4 linked regions of the Homo sapiens genome follow. The protein of the gene in region 1 purifies or fractionates together with the protein of each later gene. This does not show direct contact. Each region holds a gene or a part of one and is shown in the gene's direction. Other genes may lie near its edges. The genes, in order: FGD4, LANCL1, CTDSPL2 and CCDC86.

What was found.
Region 2: the proteins of FGD4 (region 1) and LANCL1 purify together in Homo sapiens (affinity purification with mass spectrometry; one large-scale study listed by BioGRID and IntAct). This does not show direct contact.
Region 3: the proteins of FGD4 (region 1) and CTDSPL2 purify together in Homo sapiens (affinity purification with mass spectrometry, with the first as the bait; one large-scale study listed by BioGRID). This does not show direct contact.
Region 4: the proteins of FGD4 (region 1) and CCDC86 purify together in Homo sapiens (affinity purification with mass spectrometry, with the first as the bait; one large-scale study listed by BioGRID). This does not show direct contact.

What each region holds. Positions count from the first base shown.
Region 1 is NC_000012.12:32,634,402-32,640,557, forward strand, and holds part of FGD4 (FYVE, RhoGEF and PH domain-containing protein 4), read left to right. Parts: intron 1-4,253; coding exon 4,254-4,394; coding exon of another isoform or gene 4,395-4,511; exon of another isoform or gene 4,512-4,532; intron 4,533-5,874; coding exon 5,875-6,132; 3' UTR 6,133-6,156. UniProt on the Homo sapiens protein: Activates CDC42, a member of the Ras-like family of Rho- and Rac proteins, by exchanging bound GDP for free GTP. Plays a role in regulating the actin cytoskeleton and cell shape. Activates MAPK8.
Region 2 is NC_000002.12:210,431,760-210,437,915, reverse strand, and holds part of LANCL1 (glutathione S-transferase LANCL1), read left to right. Parts: intron 1-43; coding exon 44-226; intron 227-1,523; coding exon 1,524-1,700; intron 1,701-2,456; coding exon 2,457-2,529; intron 2,530-3,352; coding exon 3,353-3,429; 3' UTR 3,430-6,156. UniProt on the Homo sapiens protein: Functions as a glutathione transferase. Catalyzes conjugation of the glutathione (GSH) to artificial substrates 1-chloro-2,4-dinitrobenzene (CDNB) and p-nitrophenyl acetate.
Region 3 is NC_000015.10:44,485,280-44,491,435, forward strand, and holds part of CTDSPL2 (CTD small phosphatase-like protein 2), read left to right. Parts: intron 1-1,271; coding exon 1,272-1,421; intron 1,422-5,504; coding exon 5,505-5,720; intron 5,721-6,156. UniProt on the Homo sapiens protein: Probable phosphatase.
Region 4 is NC_000011.10:60,845,691-60,851,581, forward strand, and holds the end of CCDC86 (coiled-coil domain-containing protein 86), read left to right. Parts: intron 1-2,233; coding exon 2,234-2,363; intron 2,364-4,249; coding exon 4,250-4,324; intron 4,325-4,515; coding exon 4,516-4,635; 3' UTR 4,636-5,391; downstream 5,392-5,891.

The sequences.
Region 1 (6,156 bases):
AATTGCCAGTGATGGTAATCTGATAACTACATTAAATATTATTGAAATGTCTCCCAAGTTAATTTGACTAATGTTCTGGAAAAAATTCAGACCCCCCCACCCCAAGCCTGAGAACTATAACGCAGCTTATCTGAAATGAGTTTTACATCTAGAGATATTAACAATATAAGGGACAGGTTATATAATAAGGCCTTTGTGGCAGTAGGTTCAAGGTAGCCTGGAAAGTCTATAGAAGAATAGGCTCAGGATCAAAATGCTATGTATCTAAAATCATAGACATACTTGGTTTATTAAGAATCTCTAAAGAGGCTGGGTGCAGTGGCTCATGCCTGTAATCCCAGCACTTTGGGAAGTTGAGGCAGTTGGATCACGAGGTCAAGAGATCAAGACCATCCTGGCCAAATGGTGAAACCCCATCTCAGCTAAAAATACAAAAATTAGCTGGGTGTGGTGGCACACACCTGTAGTCCGAGCTACTTGGGAGGCTGAGGCAGGAGAATCGCTTGAACCCGGGAGGCGGAGATTGCAGTGAGCCAAGATTGCGCCACTGCACTCCAGCCTGGTGACAGAGCTAGACTCTGTCTCAAAAAAAAAAGAATCTCTAAAGAATCAGTAAGTATTTATTGAGCATTTACATTGTGTAAGCGTACAAGTATACCTGTACACTTACAAGTGTACAAAGGTCACTTCTGTTCATTGATAAAGGGTTACAAACTTCAAGGTCCATTTGAGGCTAAGTGTAGCCCCACACACTAAAATCATTCTTCCAGGGTATAGATGTTACTCGTATGGCCTACCAAACTGGGGCTTTCTCAGGCAGTAAGGATGGAAAGACATGCTTCATTGGACATCAGGAACAGAGCCTCAAGACTTAATAGCGACAACTGATGAGACTGGCACAATATAATGAGTCGGGGAACTTGGTTTTAGGGTCAGCTTCAGGCCGTATCTCTGAAAAATCCCTAGCTAGTATTTTAGAGAACCTTATACTGAGGAAAAATTAATGAATTACTTATTAGGTCAACTCATATAATGAAATAAATATATAGTATGAAGTCCATACATAGGAGACAAGTATGTACATGGACACATTAACTTAAATGCATATTCGAGACTGATTTTGTACCAACTAGTATGTTATATGCCCTAGAACAGTGATCAACACACTTTCCTGTAAAGAGTCAGAGAGAAAATATTTTAGTCTTTGCAGACCAAGAGGCCAAACCAAGGATATTACATACATATTTGTAAAAAGAGAGAAAACAAATTTCCACAATTTTTTTTTACAAAATTAAAATTATATTTATTTAGGCTTTTTAATAATATGGATCAGCTGGGCGCAGTGGCTCATGCCTGTAATCCCAGCACTTTGGGAGGCTGAGGCGGGCGGATCACAAGGTCAGGAGTTCGAGACCAGCCTGGTCAACATGGTGAAACCCCGTCTTTACTAAAAGTACAAAAATTAGCCCGCGTAGTGGTGTGCCCCTGTAATCCCAGCTACTCGGGAGGCTGAGGCAGGAGAATCACTTGAACCTGGGAGATGGAGGTTGCAGTGAGCTGAGATCGTGCCATTGTACTCCAGCCTGGGTGACAGGGCGAGACTCTGTCTCTAATAATAATAATAATAATAATAATAATAATAAGGATCTACTAATAAGAATGGAATTCTTTGGGGGAGGATAACCATTCACTTAATTGGAATCTGAAGTTAGCGTTCCCTATCATCAAATTAATTGTAAGTGGTCGCGTAAAAAAACACCCTGGCTCATGGGCCATACAAAAACAACTGGTAGGCTGGATTTGGCTTGTGAGTTATCGTCTGCTAACCAGTGCTGCTTTAAAAATTGTCTGTGGCCAGGTGCGGTGTGGCTCACGCCTATAATCCTAGCACCAAGGCTGAGGTGGGTGGATCACCCGAGGACAGGAGTTCGAGACCAGCCTGACGAACATGGTGAAACCCCATTCTACTAAAAATACAAAAATTAGCCGGGCCTGGTGGCGTGTGCCTGTAATCCCAGCTACTTGGGAGGCTGAGGCAGGATAATCGCTTGAACCTGGGCGGCGGAGGTGTCAGTGAGCCAAGATTGAACCATTGCACTCCAGCCTGGGCAACAAGAGCTAAACTCCGTCTCAAAAAAAAAAAAAAATTGTCTATGCTGAAGCATCAGTTTTTTTTTCCTGAACTATCACAGATCAGTGTTTTTGTAAAATACACTGTAATGCACTTGGTTATCATCACAAATTCAAATTGTTATAAAAGTTTAATACTTACTCCTACTTTGTGTGCTTACCAGAAACTGGTAACATAAACCATTTGCAGACCTGGAGACCAACATGAATAACACTGAGTAGCACTACCTGAAGGGTTTTGGAGACAGAAAATAGAAGCAAACCAGTTAGTTTCCATAAGGCATATAATAAAAACTACCATTTAGTTAAATGGTTTTGTTCCTTTTTTCAGTATTTTTTTTCTTTTTTTTTTTTTTTTAGACAGAGTCTTGCTCTGTCACCCAGGCTGGAGTGCAGTGGTGCGATCTCAGCTCACTGCAATCTCTGCCTCCCCGGTCCAAGCAATTCTTATGTCTCAGCCTCCTGAGTAGCTGGGATTACAAGCATGTGCCACCACACCTGGCTAATTTTTTTCTTCTTTTTTTTTTTTTTTTTTTTAGTAGAGGCAGGGTTTCACTGTGTTGGCCAGGCTTGTCTCAAACTCCTGGCCTCAAGTGATCTACCTGCCTCTGCCTCCCAAAGTGCGGGGATTACACGTGTGAGCCACCGCACCCAGCCTTTTAGCCAACAATTTTTATATTAGGAGGCAAAATAGAAAAATTAAATGGCTCTATGTATTAGTCTGTACTCACACTGCTATAAAGACATACCCAAGACTGGGTTATTTATAAATAAAGGAGGCTTGGCCGGGCATGGTGGCTCACGCCTGTAATCCCAGCACTTTGGGAGGCCAAGGCAGGCAGATCACGAGGTCAGGAGATCGAGACCATCCTGGCTAACACAGTTAAACCCCATCTCTACTAAAAGTACAAAAAATTAGCCAAGCGTGGTGGTGAGTGCCTGTAGTCCCAGTTACTCAGGAGGCTGAGGCAGGAGAATGGTGAGAACCTGGGAGGTGGAGCTTGCAGTGAGCTGAGATCGTGCCATTGCACTCCAGCCTGGGTGACAGAGCAAGACTCCATCTCTATGAATAAATAAATAAATAAATAAATAATAAATAAGGCTTAATTGACTCACAGTTCCGCATGGCTGGGGAGGCCTCAGAAAACGTACAATCATGGCAGAAGGGGAAGAGGCACATCTTACATGGTGGCAAGCGAGAGTGAGCAAGTGTATGAAGGAAGAACTGTCAGACACTTACAAAACCATCAGATCTCATGAGAACTCACGATCACGAGAACAGCATGGGGGACACTGCCCCCATGATCCAGTTACCTCCTATCAGGTCTCTCCCTCGACACATGGGGATCGTGGGGATTACAATTGAAGATGAGATTTGGGTGGGGACACAAGGCCTAACCATATCACTCTACAAAAATTGATTGCACTGAAAAAATCTTTAATTAGGTGTACTCAAACAAAGATTGCTGGTTACTATTTGCCTTTTTGCTTTTATATTCTTTCTTAATTGAAGTAGGTATCGCATTGTCGTTAAAAGTTCAGGCTCTGTTCTGGGCACAGTGACTCACCCCTGTAATCCCAGCACTTTGGGAGGCCAAGGTGGGAGGATTGCTTGAGGCCAGGAGTTCAAGACCAGTGTGGGCAATGTAGTGAGACCCTGTTTCTACAAAAAATTTAAAAATTCTCTCCCAGCTACTTGAGAGGCTGAGGCAGAGGATCGAAGTTCAGACTCTGGATTCAGACTCTCTGGGTTCAAATCCCAGCATGCCAATGTGTGATCTTGGGAAAGCTATTTAAACTCTGAGCCTCAGAAAAAATGAAAATACTACCTTCTCAGTGTTGGTGTGAGGATTAAATGAAATAAGACATGTATTGAGCTAAGGAAAGTGCCTACATAGTAAGCAATCAATAAACACTTAACTCTTTAAATTCAAGGTCTAGTTACGTAAAGAGCTAAAATTGGCTTAAATATTTTCCATGTTAAAATGTTTAAACAATAATTGCAAATGAATCTTTTTTGGATAGTCCAGGGAAACATTTTGTATAAACACATTGTACTTTGTGAATATTTCTCTATCTGATTTGTTGTGTGTTCATTCTGTCTTTCCATTATATTTTTCTAGATTGAATCAGCAGAAGTATCTGGAAACAGTGTGGTGTGCAGCTTTCTTCAGTATATGGAGAAGTCAAAACCTTGGCAGAAAGCTTGGTGTGTGATCCCCAAGCAAGACCCTCTTGTGCTGTACATGTATGGTGCCCCCCAGGTATCTAAACCACATCTGTCTGAAGGGACAGATGCCCTTGGGGGCAAGGGGAAGCGAGTGGACAGCGGACTCAAAATCTGTAGAACAAGAGTTCAGGCAGTTTCACTGTTTCATTAAAATTGAAAAATAATGAGTAAAGTTCAAGTTTGTTGTTTAAGCTGATTGATTCATTTTATAGCCTATATTTTCTTCAGTTTGTGGATCATCTGTCCCCTTTCTTGTCTCATTCAATGGGTTTGAGAAAAGATGAGTTGAATTAGGAATGAGCATGAGGAGAAGGGGAAGCAAACGGGAGAAACAAGCCTTTTTAATGATAGGAAACATTAAGAAAAGACTTTTTAATTTTGTTTTTTGTTTGTTTGTTTGTTGTGTTGTTGTTTTCTTTGTGACAGAGTTTTGCTCATGTCACCCAGGCTATAGTGCAATGGTGCAATCTTGGCTCACTGCAACCTCCACCTCCTGGGTTCAAGTGATTCATCTGCCTCAGCCTCCCGAGTAGCTGGGATTACATGTACCCACCACCACACCTGGCTAATTTTTATATTTTTAGTAGAGACAGGGTTTCACCATGTTGATCAGGCTGGTCTTGAACTCCTGACCTCAGGTGATCCGCCCACCTCGGCCTCCCAAAGTGCTGGTAATACAGGCGTGAGCCACTGCGCCCAGCCAATTTTGTTTTTTATTTTATTTTTTCTTTTTGCTCAATGGATAGATATCTGAAAAAGGAGTTTGAGAGGAAGGGGAACTTAAAATCAGTCTTGCATTATCATTCAGTAGCAATTTTTTTGAGAACCCCACGTATATGGATCTGAGATAAATCTATGGGAACAATGATATGCAGGTTTAGCTTTTAACAAGAGCAGCACCAGGTCCTATGATTGTGTTGTGCTTGAAGAATCAAATGTACAACACTTAAACCAGTTATGCATTTACTCTGAAATATAAAAATTTTACATATACCTGTTGTATTTCAGTCTATAAATTAAGGGCTGGTAAAATTATTTTATTTTGAAAATAGACTGAAAATGACAGGCTATATAGTTTACTCTCCTTTATTGCTTTTCCTATAAGCTTTCTATGTCCATAAATAAGTTGATGGAATAAGTGAATCACCAGATAAAACTGCCTTTAGTAATGAGATTCTCATTACTGTTTGCTGGTTTAATACAGTATGATGGCGATTTTTCTTCCCCTTTTCACTGAATGAAGAGTTGAAAGGCTCTTTTCACAGAGAGGAGGGTGTAGTGTCTCTGAGTCCTAGCTGATTTGGGTGTCAGCTCTCATTCATTCAGCTAACATTATCAGTGGCCTCACGTACAGGCTCTGTACTAAGCAATGGGATTGCCCTCTGTGCCCATGGAGAACTCACCGTTTAAGTCTGTTTGGGACAGTGGTAGGAAGAGAGGTTTAGTAGGAGCAAGGGACACACTTAACAAGCGAATACATCACCTGCTTTTAATGTCTGATGTCTTTTCTTTAGGACGTCAGAGCCCAGGCCACCATTCCACTTCTGGGCTATGTGGTGGATGAAATGCCAAGGAGCGCAGACCTGCCACACAGTTTCAAACTGACCCAGTCTAAGTCCGTGCACAGCTTTGCTGCAGACAGTGAGGAACTGAAGCAGAAGTGGCTGAAAGTCATCCTTTTAGCTGTCACAGGTGAGACACCAGGTGGTCCAAATGAGCATCCAGCCACCTTGGATGATCATCCTGAACCTAAGAAAAAATCAGAATGCTGAACTCCTCCAGGACCAGCCATGGTG
Region 2 (6,156 bases), on another chromosome or scaffold:
TTATTTGCTTCAGCAGAACTAATAATTTCCTTCTCATTTTTAGCCCAGCCTTCAAGTGAGCCAAGGGAAGTTACATAGTTTGGTCAAGCCCAGTGTAGACTACGTCTGCCAGCTGAAATTCCCTTCTGGCAATTACCCTCCATGTATAGGTGATAATCGAGATCTGCTTGTCCATTGGTGCCATGGCGCCCCTGGGGTAATCTACATGCTCATCCAGGCCTATAAGGTACTGTGTGTATTTTTGAAATAAATTTTTTTAAATAACCAAAAATTTATAATTTAAAATTAGTTTTATCCTAATCCATAAAGGAACAATAAATAAATCTCTTGTGGGACCTAAGATCACTTTACTAAATGAATTATAATTCATTCTCACCATCTATCTGTACCATAGCAGCCATTGTTTCATATCCTACTTTTAACAACACTTAGGTTGCAATGAGATATTGTTTATGATCCAGCATATTATCTAGCAATTCCACTCCTAGGTGTGTACTCGAAAGAACCAAAACCAAGCATTCATAACGGCATTATTTATAATTGCCACAGGTGAAAATAATCCAAGTATTCATCAACAGATGAATTGATAAAATGTCATATATACAATGGAACATATCACAATGCAATGGATTATTATTCTGCTATTAAAAGAATGACTTTCTGATACATATTACAACATGGATGAACCTTGAAAACATGCTAAGTGAAATAAATAGATATAAAAGGACAAATATTGTATGATTCCATTGTAGTGCATAAATAACACTAATAGAAAGCATGCCTTCACAGAACTGCAATCAACGCAGATTTTTAGTTGAGAAAAAAAAAGATATCTATGACCATTGGTGCCAAATCAACAAATTACAACTCTGCAGACTATCGCTGGGCGCTGGCATCTCATAAATAAGCTTTTAGTGTATCATATTCTACATTTCAGAGAATTAGATATGTTAATAATAGAAAAACTTTTTAAACTGCCTTATCCTACTTTTAAGAACACTTAGGTTGCAATGAGATATTAAAAATATCTACTCAGAATATTTCCTAAGTCTTTGATGAAGATATAGGAGGCAGTAAAAGATTGTAAAGGTCTATCTCTATTTTTCTGACTGCATATTTAATAAAGAACAGTTGTTCTTCTCCAGTGTGTAAAGAAACTTCCTAATAGTGAAGAGGGCATCAGAGTTACAAAGAAGATAGCATGTGTTCTTTGGAAAGTCACTCATGATAAGAGCAAGTTGCAAGTTAAATAATGCTGCTTCCTCAGTAACACCCACATAAACATACACACATGTGCAGAAAACTTAGACTGTACATGCCAAAGTCATGCACAGTTTTTTTTAAAGCCAAACTAGTCGATTTTAGTAATTGTCACTAGCAACATAACACATCCCTCTGTCACTAAATCCTTTACCCTTTCTTGCCAAGCCATCTCCCTCTTTCCTTCTTATCTATCAGGAAGGAATATCAATGGAACTTTCTTTTATATCCCGTATAATAAAATGTGTCCTTTGCCTCTGCAGGTATTCAGAGAGGAAAAGTATCTCTGTGATGCCTATCAGTGTGCTGATGTGATCTGGCAATATGGGTTGCTGAAGAAGGGATATGGGCTGTGCCACGGTTCTGCAGGGAATGCCTATGCCTTCCTGACACTCTACAACCTCACACAGGACATGAAGTACCTGTATAGGGCCTGTAAGGTAGGAGTCAGAACCACCAAATAGAAAGCAGCTCGGTGGCTCACACCTGTAAATCTCAGCACTTTGGGAGGCTGAGGCAGGCGGATCACCTGAGGTCAGGAGTTCGAGACCAGCCTGGCTAACATGGTCTACTAAAATGACAAAAAATTAGCCAGGTGTGGTGGCAGGCGCCTATAATCCCAGCTACTTTGGAGGCTGAGGCACAAGAATCACTTGAACCCGGGAGGCAGAGGTTGCAGTGAGCCAAGATCACACCATTGTACTCCAGCCTGGGTGACAAGAGTGAAACTCCATCTCAAAAAAAAAAAAAAAAAAAAAAAAAGCAGGTCTCCCAGGAGGTTGTAGAAAGAGTTCTAGTTCATCTGATTTAATTCATTTATCCCTAAAACCATAGGTCTTGGATAACAAATACAGTTATTTAAGGAAAACCTTGAAAAGCCTTTCAATTAAATTAGCATTCCTTTAAAGGGACATAATTCTACTCAACAGCATTAATGGGAGAAAAAAATAAAGATGTAGGGTGATTTTGTGCCTTTCTTCTTGAATAACCTTGTAGATACGTGACTCAGACAGCTCATTAAATTCCTCCCATGCTGTGTACTCTTTCAAACCATCCTTTTCTCTGCATTAATCTCCTTTCTCTGATGTGAAGGTAGTGTTTGATTTTTCAGAGTAATTTGTATAGACAACCTCTTAACTTTTGGGGTTGTCTCTGGAAGAAATCACTATACTAATTTAACTTGGTCTCATTTTCAGTTTGCTGAATGGTGCTTAGAGTATGGAGAACATGGATGCAGAACACCAGACACCCCTTTCTCTCTCTTTGAAGGTATTTTGTACACTTTATTTATTTGCCCTATAATATCAGCATCTACTTCTCTGCTTGGTAATTAATGTATTTAAGTTTTAGCAAAAAATTTTATAATTATTCTTAAACTACTTTTTTATTTCCTAATATGCTAAATCGATATTAAAAATCAATTAGCACATGTAATACCACAGTCCCAATACTGGTAGTCATCAGGTGACTCCCTTTTATGGAGCCAGGCACATGTTGGGCATTTTGCAGACGCCCTCATAAATCATTCAGCAAAAACATACAGGCACTACTACCTTCATGTCATAGCCGAGGAGACTGAGGCTCAGGAGCTTATGTTTGGTAAATGGCAGGGCTGTGACTTGAACTTGTCTGGCTCCATTCTTTCTCCAGTCTTCCACCGGGATATAAGGCTGAACACCTCACTAGTGATCTCTTCTAATGTTGAACTGCAGTGTATGTAAACGTAGATAGATTCACACTTCATTTAAATCATTGCCGTTAATATTGTAATGTTGTTAATGTTAAAAAATGGAGCCATCCTTCGTTTTTGCAGAGTTGTAACTGCTCTCGGGGGGTGTCAGTGAGGTGAGGAAAAAGCCATAGGATGCCGAAGGAGGAGGGCCAAGAGGACACCCCCACCCTCCAGTGCGGCCTTGATCCAGACCTTAGGGACGAGGCCATCACTGGTGGGCACCCTTTGTTGATGTTTGTGTGTTTGAATAGACTGAAATGCTGTGACTTTTTTTGTCAATAAAGATATGGGGGAAAAAGAACCATCCTATGAAATGGAGTCATTTGGTATAATAACTTTTGCCTCTTTCTCTTTCTTCAGGAATGGCTGGAACAATATATTTCCTGGCTGACCTGCTAGTCCCCACAAAAGCCAGGTTCCCTGCATTTGAACTCTGAAAGGATAGCATGCCACCTGCAACTCACTGCATGACCCTTTCTGTATATTCAAACCCAAGCTAAGTGCTTCCGTTGCTTTCCAAGGAAACAAAGAGTCAAACTGTGGACTTGATTTTGTTAGCTTTTTTCAGAATTTATCTTTCATTCAGTTCCCTTCCATTATCATTTACTTTTACTTAGAAGTATCCAAGGAAGTCTTTTAACTTTAATTTCCATTTCTTCCTAAAGGGAGAGTGAGTGATATGTACAGTGTTTTGAGATTGTATACATATATTCCAGAACTTGGAGGAAATCTTATTTAAGTTTATGAATATAACCATCTGTTACTGTTCTAAAAATGTTTAAAAGAAACTCAATACAGATAAAGATAAATATGTGACTATTATTGGGTATTACACTTCACTTCTCTTTAATATTTTTCCTCCAACTGGAGGGCAGACAATTTTCTGACTTGCTTTTCTCTAGGTGGTTCATTTTGAAAGGGGACAGAAATATAACTAAATGCTTCCAGGAGAAAAATTCCAAGAGTTACAATCTGGACTTGGTACCTAAATATCATTTTTTAAATTCTTGATGCCTATTTGGACTAGAGGTAAACATACTTTCAGATTGGCCTGTTTTTGTCGGTAAGGCATACAGCCTTCAGAAGCCAACATTTTTAATCAAAAACTTATAAAACATGATGATCATTGTGAAAATTCTGAGTTGAAGGTTAGTTTAAGATAAGCTAACAATAACAGTCTGTGTTTTCTCTAAAATAATCTGAGTTTTTTGGAACTCTTTATTTAAATATGTGTGTTTTTCAGTATTCAAATAAGATCAGGAAGCCAATTTTCTATGTATGAATATGCTTTAACCTAGGATTTCAGTCCACTCTGACTGACTTTCTAAACTTTAACTTGGGTTTTTACAGTGACTATGCATTAGTGCTGACTCTTTGGTATAAGCCATAAAATATTTTCCTTCCTATCAATTTATCTGAACTTTGGTCTTTTCACTAAATTGTACAGTATTCTACTTCTGTTTAAAAAGGGGAGATGAGAAAGGGAATACTATCTAACCAATAACTTGAACAAAAACACTAAACTAAGCATTTAATAGAAATGCTTTTTATTGAGGAGGTATTATCCAGAGTTCATGCTTAGAACAAATGCATCTTTGCGTATCCTAGACTTAACAATTCATCAGTTTCTGAGACCACAGAATCAGGTTTTCCGTAGTAGATAAAGACTCTCTGGTGCTTCAAATTCTGTTCAAGTGTTTTGACTCATCAGCTTCTACTCTTTCTATTACTGCCTTTGCCTGGCTTGTTTTGTCTCTTTGCAACTGATTTTGCAAAAAAAAATTGTAGCTTTAAAATAACAGGGTCTAAGTATTTTAAATGTGCCTATTTCACAGCTCTCTTGGTCACAAAAACATGCTATTTTTATTGGAACTTCAAACCAAATCCCCACTGAGTGTGTACTGGTTCCTGCAGGTAGCAGTCTCCTATTATCTCCTGTTTAGCACCAAAAGAGCTAATATTATTGGAAACTGACCTTTTAAAGGCCACTGGCAGTAGGATTTAAAAAGCAGCCCACTGCTCAGTTTCCAGGATCAGCTTCCTCCTTCTGTCACTTGTGTAAGTTGGCACTACCTTGTGCCTCTCAGATTGCTGAAGTGCTGCTGGTAAGCATGTGCATGCTCTGCCTTTCTTGTGAAAGTTTTCAATCAGCGATATCAGCACTTACAGTAAGAAGTAAAAGTAGTGCACAGCAAAGCTAATTTGCCTTTGCCTGGGGTGTTCAGCTTGAAAGAATAAAGCTCATTTGGTTTAGTTAAATGTCTTACTCTACTGTGCCTATGCTTTTAGCTGCGTTACTAAGCAAGGGAAAAATAACAGTTTCTCTGAGCCAGAGAAGACTTGATCACAGTTCTCCAAGCATCGTGATAGCAATGCTTAACCCCAGGAAGATTTCAAGGCAGGGAGAAGAACATTTCAAATAAGATTCTTGTTAACCCATTTATGCCTAGTGTTCCATTATTGGAATGCTAAGCTTGTGGGAGTCATTTACATCCTACTGCTCAAAGTCATTGCCAAGGTCTGATTTTTCACACAAAAAATTGCAACCCCCAGCATAAATGGGTTAGCTACTGTCATCAGTTAGCAAATTCATCCACACAAACACAATTAGAGTTTGGTTTTTTTTTAAGCTTTTCAAAACTTACTAAACTGGCACAATTTTATATGTATGCTATTTGTTGTATTTATGCTTAAGAGCAAAAAAGTTTTGATGGGATTTTAAATTCAGGCAAAGCCTACAACGCTGAGACAATCCCCTAACAACATGGTAGTAACTAAAGAAACTTTTATACTAGGCTTCTTAGTTTTAAAAGGAAGTGGCATCATTGTTTCAGTTCTAGTTTGTATTTTTCTCTCAGATATTTTTCTTCTTTAAAAATCTTTCCCAGAAGTTGGTTCCTAGAAAACTCAATACCATCATCTCTTATCTCTATACAGGGACTAGGTAATAAAACCTTCAAAGGTTGTCAAAGGTCATCAAGCAGTGTTCATTTATCCTGTCACATGTTTCTGTTTCTATAGTAATTTAGAAATTGCAAATAGTTAACTTTTCATCATGTAAAAAGTTAACATTATCCTATTTCCATAGATACCATGGACGGCGGTGTGGCCTGAGTTGTCAGTCTTTAATCCTGAGTCATGTGGCTCTCTTTTCATCTTTGATG
Region 3 (6,156 bases), on another chromosome or scaffold:
AGAAACTCCTCAAAGTCAAAAAGAAGGAGAATAGCATTAAGGAAAAGCAGAGACAGCTATAAAGAATAACACTTTAGAGCAACAGTCCCCAACCTCTTGGCAGCAAGGACCAGTTTTGTGGAAGACAGTTTTTCCACTGACAGTGATGGGAATGGTTTCAGGATGAAACTGTTCCATCTCAGATCATCAGACATTAGTTAGATTCTCATAAGGATCGCACAACCTAGATCCCTTGCATGTAAAGTTCACAGTAGGGTTCGTGTTCCTAAAAGAATCTAATGCAGCAGCTTATCTGCAGATAAGGTAGTAGAGGCAGAGCTCAGGCGTTAATGCTTGTTCACCTCCTGCTCTGCGGCCCAGTTCCTAATAGGCTGCGGACTGGTACCAGTGGGTATGGGGTTAGGGACCCCTGCTTTAGAGTATGGAGTACTGTTTTAACGAATGCTATCTTAAACACAGCAGCAATTTCTCCCCTTGTCTCTGCCCAGTGCAGCAATATATCTTTATTGTTAGAAAAAACAAACCAGGAGGGAGAAAAAGACTGAGACAAGACAAGGGGGACAAAATAGAGAAAGAAACAAGTTAAAAGAACCATAGCAAAGAAGGAAATAAGTGTTGTAGACATCAAAAGTTGAGGAGAATCAAAGGATGATTAATTAGAACAGTTGATTGATTTTACTTTTATATTCTTAAAAGATCTGTGGAACATTTTGATTTACAGGAAACTTAAAATTATTTTCCCTAGCCACTCTGAGATGGCGTCTCAGTGTCCATAAGTAATTTTTGACACTGCTATATATAGCCTTTTGCTTCAGTAGAGTTATGTTGCCTCTATTCATTTCGCTGTCATTCATTAGATAGAAGCAGATGTGAGGGAAGGTTTTATGAATTAGAACCGTCCTAGAATGTAAACAAAAATAAAATTATTTGTGTTTTAGTTGGTGGGAACTAGTTTGCTTGTTTACAAAGAATTTTCTTCATTTTGTGTTATACTGTGTTGATTTGAAGCCTTTCAGTCTATAGGTGTAAATCTACTTTGAAAAAACTCAGTAAATATTAGCATTATAAACACATTGATACATAAAGAGCATTTGACTTACGAGTAATTTACCTCAATGTTTCTTTAATAAGCTTTCCTGAACATTAACATTAATTAGCTTTCGTGAAGTATTTTGAGGGAAAAAGAGTTACTTCTATAATGAATGATTTATAACACACTTCTGAAATTCAGTGTTTTCTAGATCATGACTTTTTTCTTGTTTCTTTTTTAGAAGCTGGTAGTTATGAAATGACAAATCAACATGTAAAACAAAATGGAAAATTAGAAGATAATCCTTCCTCTGGCAGTCCTCCAAGGACTACTTTGTTGGGGACCATATTTTCACCTGTCTTCAACTTTTTTTCACCAGCAAATAAAAATGGTAAGTATAAACTGTTAACTGTGATTTGGATTTTTTTTAAAAAAATGCATAGTTTGGGTTTTTTTTTTTTTTTTTTCTTGAGACGAAGTCTCTCTTTGTTGCCCAGGCTGGAGTGCAGTGACGCGATCTCCCCGCTCACTGCAGCCTCTGCCTCCCAGGTTCAAGCAATACTCCTGCCTCAGCCTTACAAGTAGGTGGGACTGTAGGTACCTGCCACCATGCCCGGCTAATATTTTTTGTATTTTTGGTTGAGACGGGGTTTCACCATGTTGACCAGGCTGGTCTCAAACTCTTGACCTTCAAGTGATCCGCCCACCTCGGATTCCCAAAGTGCTGGAATTACAGATGTGAGCAACTGTGCCCAGCAAAAAAATACATAGTTTTTAAAAAGATCTTTTTTATTTTATTAGCATATTTTGTCAATGTCTCGTGTATGTTTTCCACCTCATTAATAATATACAGCTCCTTGGGAGCTGGGTGTGGTGGCTGATGCCGGTAATCTGAACTCTTCGGGAAGCCAAGACAGGAGAATTGCTCAAGGGCAGGAGTTTGAGACTAGCCTGGGCAACATAGTGAGACCCTGTCTCTACAAAAAAATGTAAAAATTATTTGGGCGTGGTAGTGCACGCCTGTAGTCCTAGCTACTCCAGAGGCTGAGGTGGGAGGAATGCTTCAATCCAGCAGTTTGAACCCAGGAGTTTGAGGCTGCAGTGTGCTGTGATTGTACCACTGCACTCAAGCTTGGACAGCCAAGTAGGGGGTCCACGTAAAAAAAAATAAAAAGAATGGAATGGTCCTGTCTTCTGGGTGGCAGGGGTAGTGGCTCACAAAAGGCTTGAAAGAAAAGCCGAATCTGGAAAAGTGGCAAAAGCCATTCCAGGTAGAAGGAGCAGCATGCGTAGAGGCCTTGCAGCAGAAAACAGCATAGTGTATTTGAGAGCTGTTTGTAGTTTGTAATTGATGGAACATTGCATTTGAGAAGGGATAAGGTAGGAGAGCTATGAAGAAGTCATATAATAGAGCTAACATAGTAAGATGATGAACTTTATTCAAGTATGGGATAATTGAAAGTTTGTTTTGTTTTGTTTTTTTCCCCAAGGTGAAAGCAATTTTATTAAGAAAGTAAAGGAATAGGCCGGGCACCGTGGCTTATACCTGTAATCACAGCACTTTAGGAGGCCGAGGCAGGTGGATCATGAGGTCAGGAGTTCAAGACCAGCCTGACTAACATGGTGAAACCATGTCTCTACTAAAGAAAAATACAAAAGTTAGCTGGATGTGGTGGCATGTGCCTGTAATCCCAGCTACTCAAGGCAGGAGAATCACTTGAACCCAGGAGGCGGAGGCTGCAGTGAGCTGAGATCATGCCACTGCACTCCAGCCTGGGTGACAGAGCAAGACTCCGTCTCAAAAAAAAAAAAAAAAGAAAAAGGAATAAAGAATGGCTCCTCCTCCATAGGCAGAGCGGCCTGAAAGGTTTTAAACTGGTGAATAATACGATCAGATCTATGTTTTATAAAGATCACTTGGGCAGTAGTGTGTAGACTAGATTCTGAAGAGGCCATAGGCAGGTAGAACAATTAGTAGACTTGTAGTCGTTTGTGTGAGACTTGATGAGACCTTAATTGTATTAGAGAAGACAGGAAGGATCAGAGGATAGAAAATAGACACATTTTTGGTGCAGATTGGAGGTGAAAGAGAATAGAGATGAAGATGGCACAAGAGTAGAAGATTCAAGGAAAATAAAGTTCCTGGGAGATAGATAATTGAGTGTAATTTGGACCATGCTGAGTTTGAGATGCCATGAAATATTTAAATAAAAATATTCAGGCTGGGCGCGGTGGCTCAACGCCTGTAATCCGAGCACTTTGGGAGGCCGAGATGGGCGGATCACTTGAGGTCAGGAGTTCAAGACCAGCCTGACCAACATGGAGAAACCTATCTCTACTAAAAATACAAAAAAATTTAGCTGGGCATGGTGGCGCACACCCACCTGTAATCCCAGCTACTCAAGAGGCTGAGGCAGGAGAATTGCTTGAACCTGGGAGGCCGAGGTTGCAGTGAGCTGAGATCGCACCATTGCACTCCAGCCTGGGCAACAAGAGTGAAACTCCATCTCAAAAAACAAAACAAAACAAAAAAAACAAACCCCAGTAGTAATATTTTCCCCTCATGCTGAAGTAAAGAATCTCTGAAGGTGTGTATATCTCTGAAGGTGTGTACAGAAATAGATGTCTGGGGAAGAAGGAGTTGAAGTTTGATAGAGTTTTCTTGGAAGGAAGAGATGGTGTCATTAATGATAGTTCTAGTGGAAGGGACTTGGGAAGAATAGTGAAGGTTTACATTGATATTTTCTTTGTGTGTGTCTCTGTCTCTCTCTCCCCACCCCATACACACACAACCTCTCTCTCCACTCCCACATCTGTCTCTTCCCCCCTCCCCCCCACCTACCTCCTCCCCTCCCCCTGCCTTTCCCTGTCTCTGTGTCTCTGTTTTATTTGGATTATGACCAGTCTTTGTAATTGTATTTTTTGTTCCATAGCCTGCAACTAGGGTCTGAGAAGCCTGTTGGTTACGTTGATTCAAGAGGGATTTCTTGATGGATGACAGTGGAGGAATGAGGGATCAAGGATACTGAGGCTGCCAGTTTGACAGTGTATTTAAGTGATACACCACGAAGTCTAACTAGATGAGGAGGGTTGAGAAGAAGTGTTTGAGGGACGTGTTTGGAATTAAACAGACTGGCCTTTATCAAGTTTGAAGATCACATATAATGGGAGTATGAGATATATAATTTGAGGGTTAGGAGGTTGTGCTAAGTGGTTAATACAGTATTAGAATTTTAGGCTTCAGAGGTGAAGTTTCTCAGTGTTAATGTCCAGGTTATAGCTATGGTAGTAACTGATATAGAGCAGTATGAGTGAAGGTGGTTGGAGCTGAAGAGGGCAAGAACTTTGAGGATTAGTCATTGGATGAGTCATTGACATCATCTGTAATAACAACTAGAAAAAATACTGTGTTAAATAGAGCAGTAAACTAGTAGCTATGTATTAAACTTCTTTGCGATTGAGAGGATTCTGGCAGTAGATGGTAGGTGCCAGCAGTGAGGATAAGTGAAGAATTATATAGCCATGTGACATCAGTCTCAAAAGAGCAGACTTTTTTTGCACATTAGTGGAAAACCAGCGATTGGATAGTAGCAATGGAGATAAATGAATTCTGATTCAATTAGTATATTGGTATGGGAGAATAAAGAGCATTGAGGGAAGGGTATCAGAAAAACCTTTTAGGAAAGAGGTTAAACTTAAAGCAACAAGGGAGAAGGAATGTTCTGTAAGGAAGTTGAGAATATTGGAGGTTAATTTTTTTTGTTATTTTTGTTTAAAATGACATTTGGAAGATTCCAGAAGGAAATGGAAAGACCTGGGATTATTATTTTTTCTTTTTTAATTGAGACAGGGTCTTGCTCTGTCACCCAGGCTGGAGTGCAATAGTACGATCACCGTTCACTGCAGCCTTGACCTCCTTCTGGGCCCAAGCGATCCTCCCACTTCAGCCTCATGAGTAGCTGGGATCACAGATGTGCACCACCACACCCAGCTAGTTTTTATATTCTTTGTAGAGACAGCCATGTTGCCCAGGCTGGTTTTGAACTCCTGAGCTCAAGCAATCTGCTTGCCTCAGCCTCCCAAAGTGCTGGGATTACAGGCATGAGTCACCACACCTGGCCCAGTCTTTGTTATTGAGATGGAGTTTTGCTGAGAAATTATTTTTATATCTTTTAATTAAAAGGTTCTCATGATTAGGGGAACAGCTAATTTTTTGATACCTCTGGTTGAAAAATTACAATTGCACACATGACTAGGATGCAGAAACTTTGCTCACAAATGTTACTCTAGCCTGTAAGTCTTTATTCTTCATTGTTTGAAATAGCTAGCAAAGATTCTCTAAAAGCAATATACTCAGCTTTGTTCCTGCAGGAATGATCAGTCTAAATAAATATATTGTACGGTGATGCTGCATTTAGTTTTTCTAAATAGGTGCATTTTTAAATGATGATAGTACACTGAATCATGATTTCAGGAACGTCAGGATCAGATTCTCCAGGACAGGCTGTGGAAGCTGAAGAAATAGTAAAACAACTTGATATGGAACAGGTGGATGAGATCACTACCAGTACTACTACATCAACTAATGGAGCAGCTTACTCAAATCAAGCAGTTCAAGTGAGACCATCACTAAACAATGGTTTAGAAGAAGCAGAAGAAACAGTTAATCGTGATATCCCACCCCTTACAGGTGAAGAAAATTTCTTTTCTTATACATCTTCATGAGTAGTTGATAAAAAATAACAGTATTTCATATTTTTTCTTAAATGAGCACATTATATGCATAGGTTTTTCTTCCTGGAAGTTAAGAAAAAGTTAAAATTGGAAACAAAGCTTTGTCCCAAAAATCCAAAGTCATTTTGAAATTGAAATTTTTTAAAAGATTTTGACTAAGTATTAGTCATTTTACAGTTTAATTATTACTACTAATCTTATTGCTTGGAGAAATTTAATACAACTAACAAAATATATGCTCATGTTTATGAATATCCTTATTATTATTGCACAAGTCTTAGACCCTTATGTCTGAGGTCACTAGCTAGAGGCAGTCTCATACCTTCAGATTTGTTTGATTACATCAATGACATCCCCCCAAAAACTGCTTCTGTTCCTAGATCTCCCTATAT
Region 4 (5,891 bases), on another chromosome or scaffold:
GCTGTCTGCCTTCTCTGAGGAGTAGCATTTATGGAGCACCTATTACGTGTGTGTGTCGATTAAATCTCCCACCACCCTTTGGGTTAGGAATGATTCTCATCTCCACTGGACAGGATGCTGAGACTTAGAGAGGCTACCTTGCTCCAGGTCACCCAGGTTGGACTTGGAACCCAGGCCTGAGTTTCCTCAATACCCAGGTAGAACCAATGGTCTGGAACTGCCCTGCCTCAGTACCTTAGCCGCCAGCCACATGTGGCTATGTACATTTAAATTAATTAAAATTAAATAAAATTTAAGATTCAGTTTCTCTATCAACACCAACCACATTTCTAGCGCTCAGCAGCCACCCATGACTAGTGGCTACCTTATTGGACAGTGTCAATGTGGAATGTTTCCACCATCACAGAACGTTCTGTTTGACAGCCCTGCTCTACACAGATGCAGCACTGTGTCTTGTGGTTCTGTGTGTCTCTAGGCTCCCAACACCTTGTCCCTTCAGGGTTCTCGTACCCCAGCTTGGGAAGCCCAGCTTTACAGTTATGGGGGAAGTCCATGTGGCACCCCATTCTTAGTGCTTAGGAGGCCAGGCCTTCAGTGGCAAGGCCTTGGGAAGGGGAGAAGGAAATCAGGGAGCTGGGGCCAGAAGTCGGCAGGGCCAAGGGACACCAAAATGGGCCTTGAATCTTTAAAAGAGAAAGACCTAATTTCAGCATGTGGAGGCCACCGAGAGACTTCTTTGCATTTTGTTTTTACTTTTTTTGAATGGAAATTTTCAAGCATACAAAGAAAGAGCAAAGCTCTCAAGTCCCCATTATCAGCATCAACACAGCTCAGCATTTTACTAGTGTAGCTTCATCTTTGATACTTGGCTTTTTTTTCTTTTTTTCTTTTTTTTTGTTTTGAGACGGAGTTTCATTCTTGTTGCCCAGGCCAGAGTGCAATGGAGCAATCTCGGCTCACCGCAACCTCCGCCTCCTGGGTTCAAGCGATTCTCCTGCCTCAGCCTCCCAAGTAGCTGGGATTACAGGTGTGTGCCACCACACCCAGCTAATTTTGTATTTTTAGTAGAGACAGGGTTTCTCCATGTTGGTCAAGCTGGTCTCGAACTCCCGACCTTAGGTGATCGGCCCACCTCAGCCTCCCAAAGTGCTGGGATTACAGGCGTGAGCCACTGCGCCCGGCTGATCTTTGGCATTTTTTTTTCCCTGAAATATTTTAAAGTACATCCTAGACATATCATCCCATTCATAAATCCTTGTAGTATGCATTTTTACAGAGATGAGCTCAGTTCTCCTGTAACTCTAAAATCATCGTTGCTCTTTTCAGATTTCCCTGAGAGCCCTGATGCCCACTTCATCTCCAACTGGGGGAAGAGATTCTTTTTCTTTTTTCTTTTTTCTTTTTTTTTTTTGAGACAGAGTCTTGCTCTGTCACCCAGGCTGGAGTGCAGTGGCGCGATCTCGGCTCACTGCAACCTCCACCTCCCAGGTTCAAGCAATTGTTGTACCTCAGCCTCCCAAGTAGCTGGGACTATAGGCATACACCATCACACCCAGCTAATTTTTGTATTTTTAGTAGAAACTTTAGTAGGTTTTAGTAGGCTTAGTAGGTTTTGCCATGTTTGCCCGGCTGGTCTCCAACTCCTGGACTCACGTGGTCTGCCCACCTTGGCCTCCCAAAGTGCTGGGATTACAAGCATGACCACTGCATCCGGTCTTGGCGGGGAAGATCCTGAATCATTACCCAGAACTTTAACCACTCACACTGTTCTGAAATGGAATGGGCCACCTCCCTAGGGGGTGAGCGCCCCGCCTCCAGAGGCATTCACACCCGGGCCAAATGCACTTGGCGGAAGCAACAGAACTTTACAGCAGGGGCCGCGTAGCCTGGACTCTGCAGTCGCTGACAGGATTCAAGTCCTGACTGCCACAAGGTATCTTTAGGCAGCTATTTAACCTCTCCGCGCCTTGGCCTGCTCCTCTGTAAGTGGAGAGGATAGGAGTACCCACCTCAGAGGCATGTAGCCAAGGCTTGAGAAATGGCAGCCAGCACGATCAGGGTTCCCTCCCGCCCCAAGTTTCTGCAGCCCTGGAAGGCCGCCTGTCAGGCCAGCAAGGAGGTGGTTCTGCCTGGGCTCTGGGGAAGAAGGTCCAGAGCCTCCGGCCGAGAGGAGACAGGGCATGGGTGGCGCTTGCCCCACAGACCCTGTATGCACCCACTCTCCCCCTTTCAGATTCTCCCAGATGCTTCAGGACAAGCCCCTGCGCACATCGTGGCAGCGGAAGATGAAGGAACGACAGGAGAGGAAGCTGGCCAAGGACTTTGCCCGTCACCTGGAGGAGGAGAAGGAGAGGCGCCGCCAGGTGAGGGGCCAGCCAGGCTGAGGCTGGGGCTCAGAGGACTAAGCTAGTGTCTACTGGTACAGACCTGAGGCGAGGGCCTCCACGGGTGCCTGGGGGAGGCCGACTTGGTTAAAAAACGTTCTTGAATCTGAAGGCCGGAGGGAGGAAGGGCACCTGGCCAGAAGCAGAAGTGCAATCTGGGACTACAGGGCAGGGAGGCCCAGGGGACCATACAGTTTAGCCTGGGCTGCTGAAAGAGCCTCAGGGACAGGGACGGAGGGGGAGGACCAGAAGCGGGCCTTGGGGAGAAGCCCGGGAGGAAGTCCTGGGTGGTAGGGCAGTCAGTGAGATGGGGTCGAGGGCCCTTTGCTGGGACGTACTCAGTTGGGAAGGGCTTGCAGATTTGAACTCCATGTCCCCGGTATGGCTGCTGTCATTCTCCAAGAAGCAGCCCACACACCAGCAACGTGGATGGCCCCCGCACCTTTCCTCCACTTCTGTCCCCTGTCACCCATCCCAGAGCCAGGAAGCCCCTGTAAAGGGTCACAGCCTCACCCACATCTGCCAGGGACTTTTAAGCGGGGGGAAGAGGGCACTCAGCAGGCAGCATGCAGAGAAAGCGGAGTGGCATTGGTCAGCTCCTGCCCCCCAGGGCAGGGCAGTCAGTGGGAGATTCCTCCTCCACTCCTCTAATGACCCAGGCGTGTAGGAGGAGTGCCGAACGGGATTCAGACAACTCATCCATAGTCCGTGGTCCCAGGCTGGCCACTGAGAAAAGGGGTGGGCCAGTCACTCAGTCATCTGTCCCCTGCTCTAAGTCACCCCAGCTCAGCTTACAGCTGACATCTGAGGAACAGTGTGTCCGCCACCATATGCTGAGGCCTTATCTCTTTTCCTGTGTGGCCCTGGCTCCCTCTTGGGCAAGACAGAGCTGCCGTCTCACTTCTCACCGTCCACTGCGGAGGTGCTCCTGCCCAGCCCCCAGCCCGGGCCTGCCCTGACCACAGGAGGCCAAGGCTCACTTCTCCTTCCTCCCCAGGGGCCTGGGCCACCCCTGCTACCCCAAGTCACCAAAGCCAGCAGAGACTCCTAACCATGCAGCAGCCTTGGAGCTGACGTCCCCACCCTGGCCTTGCTGAGGGACACAGTCAGCATGGCTAGAGAGCACTGGGCTTCCCCTCCCAAGACAGACTCCATCTAGAGTCTCAGTGTGCCCAAGGAGCTAGGGGCTGCTCCAAGTCCTGCACGTGCATTCCCTCATTGATTTCCCAAAACTATCTTACGAGGTAGATACTGTGGTCACTGTCACTTTAAAGATGAAGAAGCTGAGGCACAGACTTAGCTAAGGTCTCCTGTTTAGGAAATAACAGGATCCAGATTGAAACCCAGCCCAGATAGCTCCAGAGCCTTTTCTGTGCAGTGCAGCCCCTGCCCAGCCCCACACCTGTGAAAATCTCAGGGACCCAGCCCTCACCCCTAGCCTGGCATTCTGCAGCAGCAGGACTCCAGGGGAAGAGGGGGAGACTGTCGGAGAGGGTGGGAATGGGGGAAGGGCCAGCACCCCTTTCTCCCTTGGCAGTTGATGAGGGTGGCATGAGGGGTCACTGTCTGCATGTGCGTGAATCTCCAGGTGGGCACCCCCAGTGTCTCAGCCCCTGTCCTCAGTTGCCTGTCCCATACCCACCTCTCAACATGCTATCAGGAGCTTCCACCACAGCAGGCCCCTGGCACTAGACCGTGGCACAGGATTGCTAGCCCTCCACCCACACATCACCAACCTGGAGCCTGGCAGAGAGGGCCTTTCCCCTTCCTCCTGGGAATTCTGCCCGCTCGCACTCTTCTGGGGCCTGAGAGACCAGGGCTGCCTCTGCTCCCCGACTCAAATCCCCTTCTCCCACATGTTCCAGGAGAAGAAACAGCGCCGGGCTGAGAACCTGAAACGCCGCCTGGAGAATGAGCGGAAGGCAGAGGTCGTCCAAGTGGTGAGTGTCTCGTTTTCCCCCTCTGCCCTTCTGCCCCACTTGGGGGTGCAAACCAGGGCCTCGACCCCTGCCTCATGTACCCCCACTCTCATGCTACGATCTCAGGCCCCTGTGGGGCGGCCTTCCTCTCCCCTGGGAATTTGGACCGAGGCTGCAGCTGCACTAATGTCCTCCCCTCATACCACCCCCAGATCCGAAACCCCGCCAAGCTCAAGCGGGCAAAGAAGAAGCAGCTGCGCTCCATTGAGAAGCGGGACACCCTGGCCCTGCTGCAGAAGCAGCCGCCCCAGCAGCCGGCAGCCAAGATCTGAGCTCAGGACGGCCCGAGGCCTTCCATGGCCAACAACCATGTCAGACACAGCACCTCAGGCCGCTGCTCAGATGCCTCTGCTGGAGCTGGCACTCCAAACCCATGGCTCCAGAACAGGGACCCCCACCCCGACCGGGGCTCCTCGGCCTTTGAAGGCTTCCAGGCAGGTCTGTGTGGGACAGAAGCCCAGAGGGGGCCTGGGACCTGGCAGAGATGGGGGCGGGAAGAGATTCAGCTCCCATCCCTCCTTCCTCTCCTTCTCCAAGTGCCTTCAAACCAAGAACTGTACATTCTTCTGGTTCCTCAGTGAGCTGGTGACTGGCAGGTGACTCCCTCAGCAGTGTATGCCCTTTCTCAGCATCCTAGGTCCATCCCAGGCCTGGAGGCTGACAGTTGGGAATCCAGCTTCCCCCACACCTTCCCAAAGGCTGCTCTGAGCACCTCCACACCCCACTGCCTCTGTCCCCAGCAGACTGAATCCGGTTCCTCTCCACTTTTCAATACTGAAAGATTAAAATGGGGAGGTTGCAGGGAGCAGAGCTTTTCCCTAGCACCCACTTTCCCAAACCAGTCTCTGCAGAAGCCCCAGAGAATCTAACTCATGCCTGTCCAGTCTACAGCAAAAATATTTATTGAGTGCCTGTTGCATACAGGCACAATCCTAGGCACCGGCAAATACAGACAATAGACCAAAGTCCCTGCCCTCGAGGAGCTTTCATTCTGATGGAGAGAAAACATAATAAACAAGCAAAATGCACCACGTGTCCAATGGGGGAAGTGCTATGAGTAAAGGGGGAAGGGATGGGAGGGAGCAGGGGCGAGGTGTCAACACAGGGTGGCTCTGCAGCTAGCTGGGCACCTCACTGTTCCCTTTGCTCAGCACCTGCTGTGGGCCAGGCCTTCAGTGACCCTGGCCTTTGGTGGCAGAAAAAACACAGGACCAAGATCTCAAGAGTTTCTCATCTGCTTCTTCCACTGACATTTCATCCACCAAGCAAAATTCATTGACACCAACTTTTCGGTCCCTGGGCTGCAGAGCTCAAACACAGCAGTCTCTGACCCCAAGTCCACGGCAGGTGGAGGAATGAGACGGGGTGCAGTGGAAGTGATAGGTCAGAGGTGCAAGTTACCCCTCCCATCCGCAAAAGGGAAATGGTAGCTGCCCAGCCCCATGTGGCCTGGAGGCGGGGCTGCACAGATCTTGGGATTACCAGTGCCCAGAGGGATCCCACAGAACACCAGGCCGACAGGGAGGCT